Regions from separate parts of the Homo sapiens genome. Here regions 1 and 2 are each reported to be linked to region 3. Evidence: microRNA targets listed by miRTarBase, many of them from high-throughput screens and not tested one by one. Region 3 holds a microRNA gene; each other region holds the end of a gene's coding sequence.

Region 1 (4,236 bases), not on the chromosome of region 3:
GGAAAAAAATAGGTTAATGCAAAAGATAATACGCTTGGCTTTGTAAAGTTTTGTTTTGACTTACATCATCTGAATTCTGTTTATCGAGTCTGAAAAGGAACTGCTGCCAAGGACCAGTCCAAAGAAGAATTAGGCTGTAAGACTGCTAGTTCATACCTTCTTTGAAATCAATGACAATGTCCAATTTTAGGCTAATCCTAAAACACTTGCCATTTTATGACTCCATATTCTTTTAATTTACAGAAAAGTACAAATTTTTTAGAAAGTAATCTTATCAGCACAATATAATCTAACAATACCTGTAATAGAAAGCTATCCCAGTAAATTTTTTTTGAACAATTGAACTTTTGTCTTATGCAGCTTATAACTTTGTTATTTTATTCATCTCAACAAAATAAAACTTTATTGAAACAAAAGTGTATGGTTTAGGAATATGCTCTTAATAACAACTGAGCAAAATTAGAATGATGTGGACTATAACAGAATGAAGGAAGATCTCTCCTGCTTGATGTACTTGGTCAATATATGTTAGTAAACAGAAATATTTTAGGGAATTCTATGATTATTCTACTTCTACATTTACATGTCATGGTTTTAACTAGTTAAATGGGTAGAAAAAAGACATCTTTAATAATTGATTTCTATTTCTCAAACTAGATGCTCTACTTTAAATATGAGCTTTAATGAATGTTTTGTAACATTTTAAAGTTGTAACATTTCTAAGTATACTCCACTAACTTCACAATAAGAGCTAGGGTCACTGGATGACTTCATGTGGTAAAATCCCTTATCAAGGAATAAGGCTGAAATTTAAATGAACAATTAGGTAGAGAAGAGGTATGAACACAGAACATGTGAATGAAATTTGCTTTTTTTCCTTGCTGCTGTTCCCGAGTGCCGACTGATCCATAGTAAAAAAGGACAAGATTAAAATTTTAGGTTTTAATGGTACAAAGTGTGAAGTTTTATAGTTTTCTAATAATTATTCAGTATTATCCCTTTCAGAGATGAGGGTAGGATACCACAGACATCAGTAACTGACAAGTTATAATATCAACACATGTAACATTTGGGTCATTATTTTATAACCCTAAAGGGAGCAACTGCAGGTGCAGAAGCAGTGAGTGAACTAGTTTTGTCCAGACAAGGTTTTCTGATGTGCTATTACTTTAAACACCACTTTTGGACACTAAAGATTTAAAGTGATAAAGCCACTAACTAACTTTATTAGACTAGTTTTTACATAAATAACCAGATTTCTTTGCCTACCTAAAGTACAATTTACATGCATCAACACATAGATTATTCTAAGACATGCTTGGGAAAGTAATTTTGAATGTAAAAAGTTTTATAATTTATTTTCTCCTTAGGGCAGGTGTACATTACATATTAGTGCTCAAATATATGTTCATTTCCAGAATGAATTTTTGCACAGTAATCATATATCCATTTAATATGTATAAAGTGTTCTTGGGGATGGGGGTATATTCACTCACTGTACCATGTTTTATACAGGCTTCAACATGCAAATTTGTTTATATCATGGCCTTCAATGATCCTCCATTCTCATTCCTGTAGATTAAGAGTTCATATTGTATATCTGACCCTGAAATGTACAAACTTCACACTACAACATTCTTCATGACACTATTTGTTATGAGGAAAGTTGCAGCTAAATATTAGTCATGTGACTTAAATTTTGAGAAAATGGAAAATGTAATAGGTATAAATTTCCTGACACATACAGCAAGACAAATCCAGCCCAGCCTTTGATGATCAACTTAAAAGCTGGAGATGTCATTATCTTGTTGTGTAAATTTGGGTCTATCCCTACCTTTACTTCTCTGTGCCTGATTTTCCTCATCTACTTTGAATTCGTCATTCTATTAATCTACTTTTGCCTAAAGTGGGAAACTGAATATATCAGAATGAAACATCTATTTTTTTCATAAAGAAGATCATATAATATGTGAAAGAACTTTGAAAGGATGAGGCATTATATAAATGCAAGAATATAAAAGATAAACAGGAAGTCTAATGTGAACAATATTCTGAGAGTAAAAAGTGTAATTATATTTCCATTGTAAATGTATACCAAGTTTTCTTAGCTTTCTATTCTCCAATAACCTCTAGAAACTATTCTAAGCATGCCTGGTTTCTGTAACTTAAATATGGCATAAAAACCTGTTTCCTTTGAATTCACTTGATAGCAGTAGTCAATCACTAATAACGCTTGCTAATTTCCTCTTACTTTCTAAGAAAACCCCTATATTTAGCATCTGCTTCCATATCGCACGTGGTGGTTAGGGGACAGCATAAGTACACTAGCGGCTTTAGCACTAAACTCGAGGCCTGGGTCACTTCTCCCTTGAAGAAAAAAGGTTTTAAAAATTCCTAAATCACAATGTAGAACTAAGTTCCACCCTACCTCAGAACTGCAGACATTAAAATACCATCTCTTTATTAAGTGTCTCTACAATAATGATATTTGCTAAGAACAAGATGTACATTTTTTGGGGTTCTGTTTTGTTTTGGCAAATATTGCCCAAGTTGTCTTAGTGTGCCTCAAACATTTACTAAAAATAAAAAAATTTAAATCTTTGCCTACTTATTTAAAAATAAAAAAAATACTCAAAACAAATTTAAGCTGAAGATATATACTGTATAAAGTGTTCATCTACCCAGTACTCTGAAGTCTTAAGAAAAGTCAATGATATGTGTGTGTATATATATATATATATATACACACATTAGCAATTTAAGCCTTTTAACATGCCAATTTTTTAGATGCTTTATTGGTTTTTTTTCCCCTTTACTACTACTTCCTGTTTTCCCCTTTACTACTACAATTTAAGCCTTTAAAAATGGCAATTTTTTAGATGCTTGAGATAGTTTGGGGGATCCCTAGCTCTTATCATGGCACTCTGTTGAGTTTGTGAAATGCATCTTCAAAGAGGTTGTCAATAATATGCAAATTTTTGAAAACTAGTGAGATTACTAATTATTGATGAATAAAAAATGAGTACTTTTAATCTGCCAAGTTAAAGCTCTAGAATTCCTTTTCTCCAGTAATAACTCGCAGCATCACTACCAATGGAAGGGACCTAAGGAATACCGTGTACACTGATATACACGAAGCTGCTCCTCATTTTTTTGTCAGATTACAAAAGCTGGGCTCATGTAGTTATGGCCTATGGACCTCTTTTTAAGTTATTTTAGCAGAAGTAGATGATGGTCTACACCTTGCTCCTCTTTTATATTAACTGTCCCTAAGCCACTCTGATGACTATTCTAATCAAAATCAGTATAGCTGTGCTCACTAAGCATATCACTGCTTATTATTCAAATACCTTCTGTTTTCTATGTAGCAAAACAAAAAGTTTTATAAATTTCAGATAAGCTTTCTGTTTTTCTTCAGTGCAAACATCCTGAAACAGCACAAAATCATTCAGCTAGTCTGAGGATAAAGTCAGTTTATGTAGTGCTTAAAGTAGAATCCCAGATATTCTGGAATGGAAATAGCTCATGTGAAACTTCAGTTCATTTTTGTCCTTAAGGGCAAATGATCATCTTCAGAGAGTGAAGACTTTTTAAAATCTGAATTCACAGATAAAATCATTTTAGCTTTACTTTATAGGTACTGCTGAAGTTGTAGCAGGAACTACTAGTCCTTCACTGAGGCATGTAGCCGCCTTGCCGTACAGTCTGTGGTAAGTAACTTTTAGGCATGCCTTCATCAGTCGCAGCCTCCATGCCAACTGTTTCAAATCTTTCTACTTGTCCCTCAGTACCTGGACCAAAAGCATCTGCTGCAGAAACTTCCTGAAACATTTTCATTTGCCCAGATCCACAGGATTGTGAAATATGATCTGAAATCTGCTGTTTAAGTCTAACAAAATCTTCCTCATTGACTGATGAAACTTGCTTTGACCTTTCAAAATGTGAAATATCTGGACTGGATTCATGCTGACTGCAGTTCTGTTTGAAGTACTGTTGCCTGGGCAAAATACCATCACCGCCATCTACATGATCTACTAATTGTAGATCTTCTGGCCGCTCCTCTGAATCTAACAAGGGCTGGGTAGACTCGGATCTTGAGAAGACTTGGACTGACGGAACTTGGTGTCTGTAGCCACTGTGTACCACGGTAGAATACTGGACAGTGCTCGAAGTGTTTTGTGAAGATTCATTTTCATCACTGCTAGAAATGCTTGGCCTAGAAGATGACATGCATGA
Region 2 (4,240 bases), not on the chromosome of region 3:
TCCTGGGGCTCCATAGTCCGAGGGGGAGACAAAGGCCCTACTTTCAGAGGTTCCCCAGTCCAAGAGGGGAGTCAGAAGCCCATCTGCAGGGACTCATTTGCAGGTGCCATCTCAGGGGTGGTTTACCCCAGACAGGCTTCTGAGCCTGTTGGAGAGTCTTAGAGGATGTTATGTCTCCAGGCCTACTCACTGCAGCACAGCAAGGAGGACCGGCTGGCGTATCTGAACCATCTCCCAGGAGGGGAGCTGATGATCCAGCTGTTCTTCGTGCTGTATGGCATCCTGGCCCTGGCCTTTCTGTCAGGCTACTACGTGACCCTCGCTGCCCAGATCCTGGCTGTACTGCTGCCCCCTGTCATGCTGCTCATTGATGGCAATGTTGCTTACTGGCACAACACGCGGCGTGTTGAGTTCTGGAACCAGATGAAGCTCCTTGGAGAGAGTGTGGGCATCTTCGGAACTGCTGTCATCCTGGCCACTGATGGCTGAGTTTTATGGCAAGAGGCTGAGATGGGCACAGGGAGCCACTGAGGGTCACCCTGCCTTCCTCCTTGCTGGCCCAGCTGCTGTTTATTTATGCTTTTTGGTCTGTTTGTTTGATCTTTTGCTTTTTTAAAATTGTTTTTTGCAGTTAAGAGGCAGCTCATTTGTCCAAATTTCTGGGCTCAGCGCTTGGGAGGGCAGGAGCCCTGGCACTAATGCTGTACAGGTTTTTTTCCTGTTAGGAGAGCTGAGGCCAGCTGCCCACTGAGTCTCCTGTCCCTGAGAAGGGAGTATGGCAGGGCTGGGATGCGGCTACTGAGAGTGGGAGAGTGGGAGACAGAGGAAGGAAGATGGAGATTGGAAGTGAGCAAATGTGAAAAATTCCTCTTTGAACCTGGCAGATGCAGCTAGGCTCTGCAGTGCTGTTTGGAGACTGTGAGAGGGAGTGCGTGTGTTGACACATGTGGATCAGGCCCAGGAAGGGCACAGGGGCTGAGCACTACAGAAGTCACATGGGTTCTCAGGGTATGCCAGGGGCAGAAACAGTACCGGCTCTCTGTCACTCACCTTGAGAGTAGAGCAGACCCTGTTCTGCTCTGGGCTGTGAAGGGGTGGAGCAGGCAGTGGCCAGCTTTGCCCTTCCTGCTGTCTCTGTTTCTAGCTCCATGGTTGGCCTGGTGGGGGTGGAGTTCCCTCCCAAACACCAGACCACACAGTCCTCCAAAAATAAACATTTTATATAGACATTTGGTTTTGCTTTTCTGTTCTCCCCAACAGGGAACTCTGCCATTGGCTGGGATTGATCTTGGGTTTCTTGAAACACTAGATCTGGTCAAGCCCCACCTTGGGCCTCCCGTGATCTTTCCCCTGTTCCAAGATTTCCCACAGTTCTTTGGCTCTCTCTCTTTCTTTTTTTTTTTAATTTTTCACTTCTTTATTTTTTAGAGACAAGGTCTCACTTTGTTGTCCAGGCTGGTTTCAGACTCCTTGGCTCAAGTGATTCTCCAGCCTCAGCCTCAGCCTCCCAAAGTGCTGGGACTACAGGCATAAGCCACTGTGCCCAGTGGCTCTCTTTTTCAAGAATCTCAAAATCCTCATTGTACTATATGCTTTCAATCCCTCACCTCAGTCCCTCTTGTTGTAGGTTGTCTTTTTCTCCCCATTTGGAGCTGGTTCTTATGAAGACATCTTTGGTGAGAGCAGCTAGAGGGAGAGAACTGTGAAGTGTCCACTGTGAAGTGGAATATTTTACACTTTATACATGAAGGAAATGGAGGCTCAGAGAGGATAAGCAGTTTCGGTCAAGCCACAGAGCAAATCCAGCCCACAGAGCTGGATTCCAGGTCAGGTCTGTCTAATGGTGAAGTCCAGATATGTACTCACTGTGACCCATCTCCTGAGGGGAGACAGAGGCTGCTCTATTCCAGCCCCTACTGTGCCATGATGGTCTCCCTGTTGACCTTCTCCCTTTTTTTTTGAGACGGAGTCTTGCTCTGTCACCTAGGCTGGAGTGCTGTGGCGTGATCTCTGCTCACTGCAAGCTCCGCTTCCCGGGTTCATGCCATTCTCCTGCCTCAGCCTCCCGAGTAGCTGGGACTACGGTTTTGTTTGTTTGTTTGTTTTTTGTTTTTTTTGAGACAGAGTCTCACTGTCACCCAGGCTGGAGTGCTGTGGTGTGATCTCGGCTCACTGCAACCTCTGCCTCCCGGGTTCAAGTGATTCTCCTGCCTCAGCCTCCTGAGTAGCTGGGATTACAGGTGCCCGCCACCATGCCTGGCTAATTTTTTTTTTTTTTGAGACGGAGTCTCGCTCTGTCGCCCAGGCTGGAGTGCAGTGGTGCGGTCTTGGCTCACTGCAAGCTCCGCCTCCCAGGTTCACGCCATTCTCCTGCCTCAGCCTCCTGAGTAGCTGGGACTACAGGCGCCCGCCACCACGCCCAGCTAATTTTTTGTATTTTTAGTAGAGATGGGGTTTCACTGTGTTAGCCAAGATGGTCTCGATCTCCTCACCTCGTGATCCACCCGCCTCGGCCTCCTAAAGTGCTGGGATTACAGGCGTGAGTCATCGCATCCGGCGACCTTCTCCCTTCTTGTCTATGTGTCTGCCAGAAAGTCACCCCAGCAGCAGCCGGTATGGTGCCTGCTACATTATGGAGCTTCAAAAAATGTCAAATGAAACCCCTGGGCTTTGGATTTCTGCCCATCGAGTCCTGTAGAGACTGGACACAACCACTAGTAGGGCCTAGGGGAAAACGTCCAAGTTTGAGCTTTTAAGCCAAAGCCATCTTTTAACTTCTCTGGGCTCTTGCAGGTAAACGGTCCGCCACTGATGCCTGGGTCTGGCTGTGAGCCCAGCCTAGAAAGGGAGCTGTGGGTGGAGGCACTCACAGGCAAGGGGAGCTGGGGCTGCTGTGGCCTGGTCTGTGGAAGGGAGGATGCTTCCTAATCTCTGGGAGGGAGATGGTGGCAGCATTCATCATAGAAGTCTTCTACTCCCTCCAGGAGTCCCCTGATTCCCCAGCCCTCAAGATCTTGCTCCCAGCCTGTAATCCTAGCATTTTGGGAGGCCAAGCAGGGAGGATTGCTTGAGCCCAGGAGTTTGAGAGCAGCCTTGGCAACATAGTGAGACCTCGTCTCTACCAAAAAAAAAAGATCCAGGTGTGGCGGTGCATGCCTGTGGTACCAGCTTATTTAGGAGGCTGACATGGGAGGATTGCTTGAGCCTGGGAGGTCAAGGCTGCAGTGAGCTGTGATTGCACCACTGTACTCTAGCCTTGGTAACAGAGCAAGATCCTGTCTTTAAAAAAAAAAAAAAAATCTTGCTCCCACGGGGTCACTTCTAATTTTCTTTCAAGTGTAAGCTGACTCTCAGACAAGTATTTGCATTTTAATCAAGGCCTCCTGAAAAACTGCAAGACCCAAAGGAATTAAAATGAATGGTAGAATATCACGCAGGCAGGGGTATTATTTTGGGTAAGGGAGCCTCAAAACATAGCACAGAGGCACAGAAACTAGCTCACCCTTAGGGTTAGTCCTGAGTAGAGCCCTGGAAGGCACCCTCCCCTCCCCTAATCCCCAGGTTGAAAATCGAAGGCCATTTGGTTGTAGCTTTAGAGTGAGTCGAGTTGGGGTCCTAGACTGGTCCCCTTCTTTCCTGTGCTTGTCCCACTTCAGCGCCTCCTCTGGGCAGAGCTGGGGCTGCTTTCTCCTCTGCAGATCACTCAGCCAACAAGCCCCCTTCAGCCTGTGGCTGGCTGCCTGGGGTCATGCCCAGCTGGCATGGCTTTTGGTCCACCCTGGCCATTCCAGGGCCTGTAGTGTCCATGGTGAGGGTCAGCTGCCTGGGTCAGAAGCTGGCTTGTGAAAGGAGTCTGGCAGTCCCTTGGCGTGGTTGACCAACTCATAGGAGTCCCGGATATCAGCCAGGCCAAACCAGAAGAAGATCCACTGCTTGTTGGAGAAGCTGCCATCACTGTGTTTGAAGTACCTGGGTGTGGGGAGGTGATGTAGGAAACAGTTTTTAGGGCAAGGCCAGTGTTCATTACTCACTGGTTCTGTCTTTAAAAAACATTGATTGAGGACCTACTGCATGCTGGGCACCCAGCTTGGTCCTGCTGTGTGTTATCTCATTTTATCCTCACAGCAGAGGCCTGAGCCTGGCATTGTGATGCTCAGCTCACAGAGAAGCAGCTAAGGCTCAGAGAAGTTAGGTACCTTGCCAGGCGCACACAGGAAGGGAGCGGGTGCTTTGCTCTCCA
Region 3 (4,240 bases):
GGATTCACTTTTGAGAGAGTTCTCCTCTGAGACCTGATCTCTGCTGGGCAGTCTTGCACATGAGATGGGGCTGGTCTGACCTCAGCACCCCTTAGTCTGCTTGCCTCTCCCAGGACCCCAGCCAGGCCACACCTGCTTAGAGGGCACTTCTGGGTGCCCACACCATAGCTTCTGTACAAGCGGACCGTGGCTGATCAGTGGAGAGCTGCAGCAAGGTGACCTCTACAGCCACGTACCAGCCTGCACATTACCTCTCCATACTGCAGCCCTTTATATGGAAACTTTCTACATCACTTAGCTGTGTGTGTTTACACAGGTGGGTTTTGTTGTACTTGCCCTAACAGCATATGGGAATGCAGCACACACCCCAACCCACACCAACTGCCACTGAAGATGAAGCCATGGTGGGCACAGAACCAAAAACCCCACCCCTGCTAGCATCTCACCCTTGAGGTAATGCTGTGCAGAGGAAAAGGGACCTTCTTATACCCTGAGTGACCACTGTTGCTTGGGGGGGATCAGAGAAGGCACCTTCACTGGCCAGCCACCCACCCCAAACCAGAACTACCTCCAGTGCAACAGCACACACAGTCAGCAGGGGCCCCCTGGCCCACACCCCAGCTGTTTTGCCTCCACCACTAGGTGAATGCCCACAGGGAGGCAGGGACTTTTGCATCTGCTAGCATTCTGCCACAGCTGCCGCACTTTGGTCCCCTCAGTGCGGTGGACTCCAAACCTCGAGGAGCCAGAGAACAAAGTTGTGGCCCAATACAAGTTCCCCAGAGTTAAAGCACACAGTCCAAGAATTGGGAGCTGCATGTTGGCCCCTTAAAATCCTCCAAAGACAAAACCTGTTGGCTGAATCCACCTTACACCACAATCAAATCCTCAAGGTCATCAGATATAATAAAGGAAAAATACCCTGTCCAAAGGTCAGCAGCCTCAAAGATTGAAGGTGGATAAGCCCATAAAGATGAGAAAAAGACTGTGCAAGAACACTGAAAACTCAAAAATTCAGCATGCTTTCTTTTCTCCAAATGACTGCATCAACTCTCCAGCAAGTGTTCAGAACTGGGCTGAGGCTGAGATGTCTGAAATGATACAAGCAGAGTTCAGGATATGGGTAGGAACAAAGTTCCCTGAGTGAAAGAGGTATGTTGTAATCCAATACAAGGAAGCTAAAAATCATTGTAAAACATTGCAGGAACTAACAGACAAAATAGCAAGTATAAAGAAGAAAATAACTGACCTGACAGAGCTGTAAATCACACTAGAAGAATTTTCATAATGCAGTCACACGGTGATTGTGTGTGATTGCATTATGAAAATTATTGTAGTATGTGTGGGCACCTGAGAGTGCCCTGTAAGCAGATGTGGCCAGGCTGGGGTCCTGGGAGAGGCAAGCAGACTAGGGAGGGCTGAGGTCAGACCAGCTCCATCTCATGTGCAAGACCATCCAACAGAATAGACCAAGAAGAGGAAAGAATCCCAGAACCTGGAAACTGGCTTTCTGAAATAAAACAGGCAAACAAGAATGGGGGAAAAAAGAATGAAAGGGAATGAACAAAACATCCGAGAAATATGGGATTATATAAACGACTAAATCTATGACTGATTAATGTACCTGAAAGAGATGAGGAGAATGGAACCAACTTGGAAAACACATTTCAGAATATCATTCATGAGAATGTCCCCAACCTAGCCAGACAGGCCAACACTCAACTTCAGGAAATCCAGAGAACCTCAGTAAGATATGCCATGAGAAGATCATCCCCAAGACACATAATCATCAGATTCTCTGCGGTCAAAATGAAAGAAAAAGTGTTAAAGGCAGCTAGGGAGAAAGGCAACATCACCTGCAAAGGAAATTCCATCAGACTTAGCAGACCTCTCAACTGAAACTGTACAAGCCAGAAAAGATATTCAACATCTTAAAGAAAAGAAATTTCAACCCAGAATTTCATGTCCAGCAAAATTAAGCATCATAAGTGAAGGAGAAACAAGATCCTTTTCAGACAAGCAAATGCTGAGGGAATTCATTATCACCAGACCTACCTTACAAGAGCTCCTGAAGGAAGCACTAAATATGGAAAGAAAAGACCACCACCAGCCACTACAAAAACACACTGAAGTACACAGACAAGTGATGCTAAAAACCAACCACATACATAAGTCTGCAAAAAAGCCAGCTGACAGCATGACGAGAGGATCAAATCCACACATACCATTACTAACCTTAAATGGAAATGGGCTAAATGCTCCAATTGAAAGACACAGGGGGCAAGCTGGATAAAGAACCAAGACCCATTGGAGTATGCCATCTTCAAGAAACCCATCTCACATGCAGTGCCCTACATAGGCTCAAAATAAAGGAATGGAGAAAAATATTTCAAGGAAATGGAAAATAGAAAAAAGCAGGTGTTGCACTCCTAGTTTCTGACAAAGCAGACTATACCAATAAAGATTAAAAAGAAAAAAAAAAAGACAGAGGGCTGGGCGCGGTGGTTCACGCCTGTAATCCCAGCACTTTCGGAGGCTGAGACAGATGGATCACAAGGTCAGGAGATCGAGACCATCCTGGCTAACACGGTGAAACCCCGTCTCTACGAAAAATACAAAAAATTAGCTGGGCATGGTGGCGGGTGCCTGTAGTCCCAGCTACTTGGGAGGCTGAGGCAGGAGAATGGTGTGAACCTGGGAAGTGGAGCTTGCAGTGAGCCAAGATCGTGCCACTGCACTGCAGCCCAGGCGAGACAGTGAGACTCCGTCTCAAAAAAAAAAAAAAAAAAAAAAAAAAAAAGAGAGAAGGAGATTACAAAGGTGGTCCTGACCTTTGATAAATCTCATTATTGCTTGATACCAACCTGGGCTATCTTTATTGCCCAAACCAATAGGATAATGTGCTGAGGTTAGGGAGCTTCTCCCCTGCAGAGAATCCCTGATCTCCCAAAATTTGGTTGAGATCTAAGGTTGATTTTGCTATACAACTCCTTTTCTGAAGTTTTACTTATTTCCAACAAGGCAAGTTTTCCTGCTTCCGTGATGATGGAGAGCAGGCACCTCCTTTCTTGAGTTTCAGCTTGCTTCTGACAGGGAAGGTGAGTGTAAGTTTTTTCCAGCTTCTAAGATGGCAGAGAACAATCACCAGCCTGAGACTTATTTCCAGGTAAGTAGCTGAATTAGAGTTTTGTCTTAAAATTTTTCCTTAATGACTAAAATTTAAGATTACTCACCAGCTGCTTTTAATTTCTCGTTACCATTAGAACACTCAGTAATCATATGAATTGTGCATTTGTTTGTTTTGCTTAACTCTTTTTGTTTGTTTATGTTTGGGGTTTTGTTGTTGTTGTTTCACTTTTCTCCCATCTCTTCCTGACTTGGTCAAATCCAAAGAATGCTCCAAATTGTGGGGAACAAGGCTTCTGAATTGGCTAAAACTCATGTGGCTGCAAAAAAAAAAAAAATTCCAGTTAGCAGAAATGATTTTTTTAACTTTTTTATTTTTATTTTTTACATAAGTGGTTGCATCTTTTGCTAGCCAAGGCCAAACTGAGGGAGTAGTGGTGGCGACCCAAAGTTAAGATTCTGCCCTGTTCACTACAGAAACCTGAGTTTGGTTCCTAAGTCTAGTTCTTTCTGTTTGATATTTGTGTTACTTTTAAAATATCAGCAGTTTGTCCCAGCTATGATGTGGTAGTAAAAGATTCAGAAGTATTTTCTTTACAAGTTCTATGTTGAAAAGCTTAATTAAAAGCAAATTTATTTTTTTTTAATTATACTTTAAGTTCTGGGGTACATGTGCAGAACATGCAGGTTTGTTACATACGTATACACATGCTATGGTGGCTTGCTGCATGCACCAACCCATGATCTAATGCCATCCCTTTTCTAGCCCCCCACCCTGACAGGCCCTTGTGTGTGATGTTTCCCTTCCTGTGTCCATGTGTTCTCATTGTTCAGGTCCTACTTATGAGTGAGATCATGTGGTGTTTGGTTTTCTGTTCTTGTGTTAGTTTGCTGAGAATGACAGTTTCCAGCTTCATCCATGTCCCTGCAAAGGATATGAACTCATCCTTTTTTATGACTGCATAGTATTCCATGGTGTATATATGCCACATTTTCTTTATCCAGTCTATCATTGGTGGGCATTTGGGTTGGTTCCAAGTCTTTCCTGTTGTGAACACTGCCGCAATAAGCATACGTGTGCATGTGTCTTTATATTGGAATGATTTATATTTTT

The links. The annotated mature microRNA hsa-miR-3118 reads UGUGACUGCAUUAUGAAAAUUCU and lies in region 3 at 1,276-1,298, opposite strand. An mRNA with a match to its seed (bases 2 to 7 or 8) in the 3' UTR can be bound and repressed. Matches are read on the target gene's strand: a 7mer-m8 pairs with bases 2 to 8, a 7mer-A1 pairs with bases 2 to 7 and ends in A, and an 8mer does both.
Region 1: miRTarBase lists IL6ST as a target of hsa-miR-3118. Seed matches in the 3' UTR shown: 7mer-A1 at 1,687-1,693.
Region 2: the mRNA of TMEM101 is a reported target of hsa-miR-3118. Seed matches in the 3' UTR shown: 7mer-A1 at 990-996.

Annotation. Positions count from the first base shown.
Region 1 is chr5:55,937,410-55,941,645 of GRCh38, forward strand. It overlaps IL6ST (interleukin 6 cytokine family signal transducer), which reads right to left. Exons shown (of 17, transcript NM_002184.4): 17 at 1-4,236. The coding sequence ends at 3,673. Among named protein-coding and RNA genes, the nearest start is that of IL6ST, 55 kb to the right of the region's middle.
Region 2 is chr17:44,008,177-44,012,416 of GRCh38, reverse strand. It overlaps TMEM101 (transmembrane protein 101), which reads left to right. Exons shown (of 4, transcript NM_032376.4): 4 at 181-1,229. The coding sequence ends at 489. It overlaps NAGS (N-acetylglutamate synthase), which reads right to left. Exons shown (of 7, transcript NM_153006.3): 7 at 3,349-3,969. The coding sequence ends at 3,816. Among named protein-coding and RNA genes, the nearest start is that of TMEM101, 4.7 kb to the left of the region's middle. RefSeq lists a silencer at 862-1,156.
Region 3 is chr15:20,829,896-20,834,135 of GRCh38, reverse strand. It overlaps MIR3118-2 (microRNA 3118-2), which reads right to left and starts at 1,341; the gene lies at 1,267-1,341.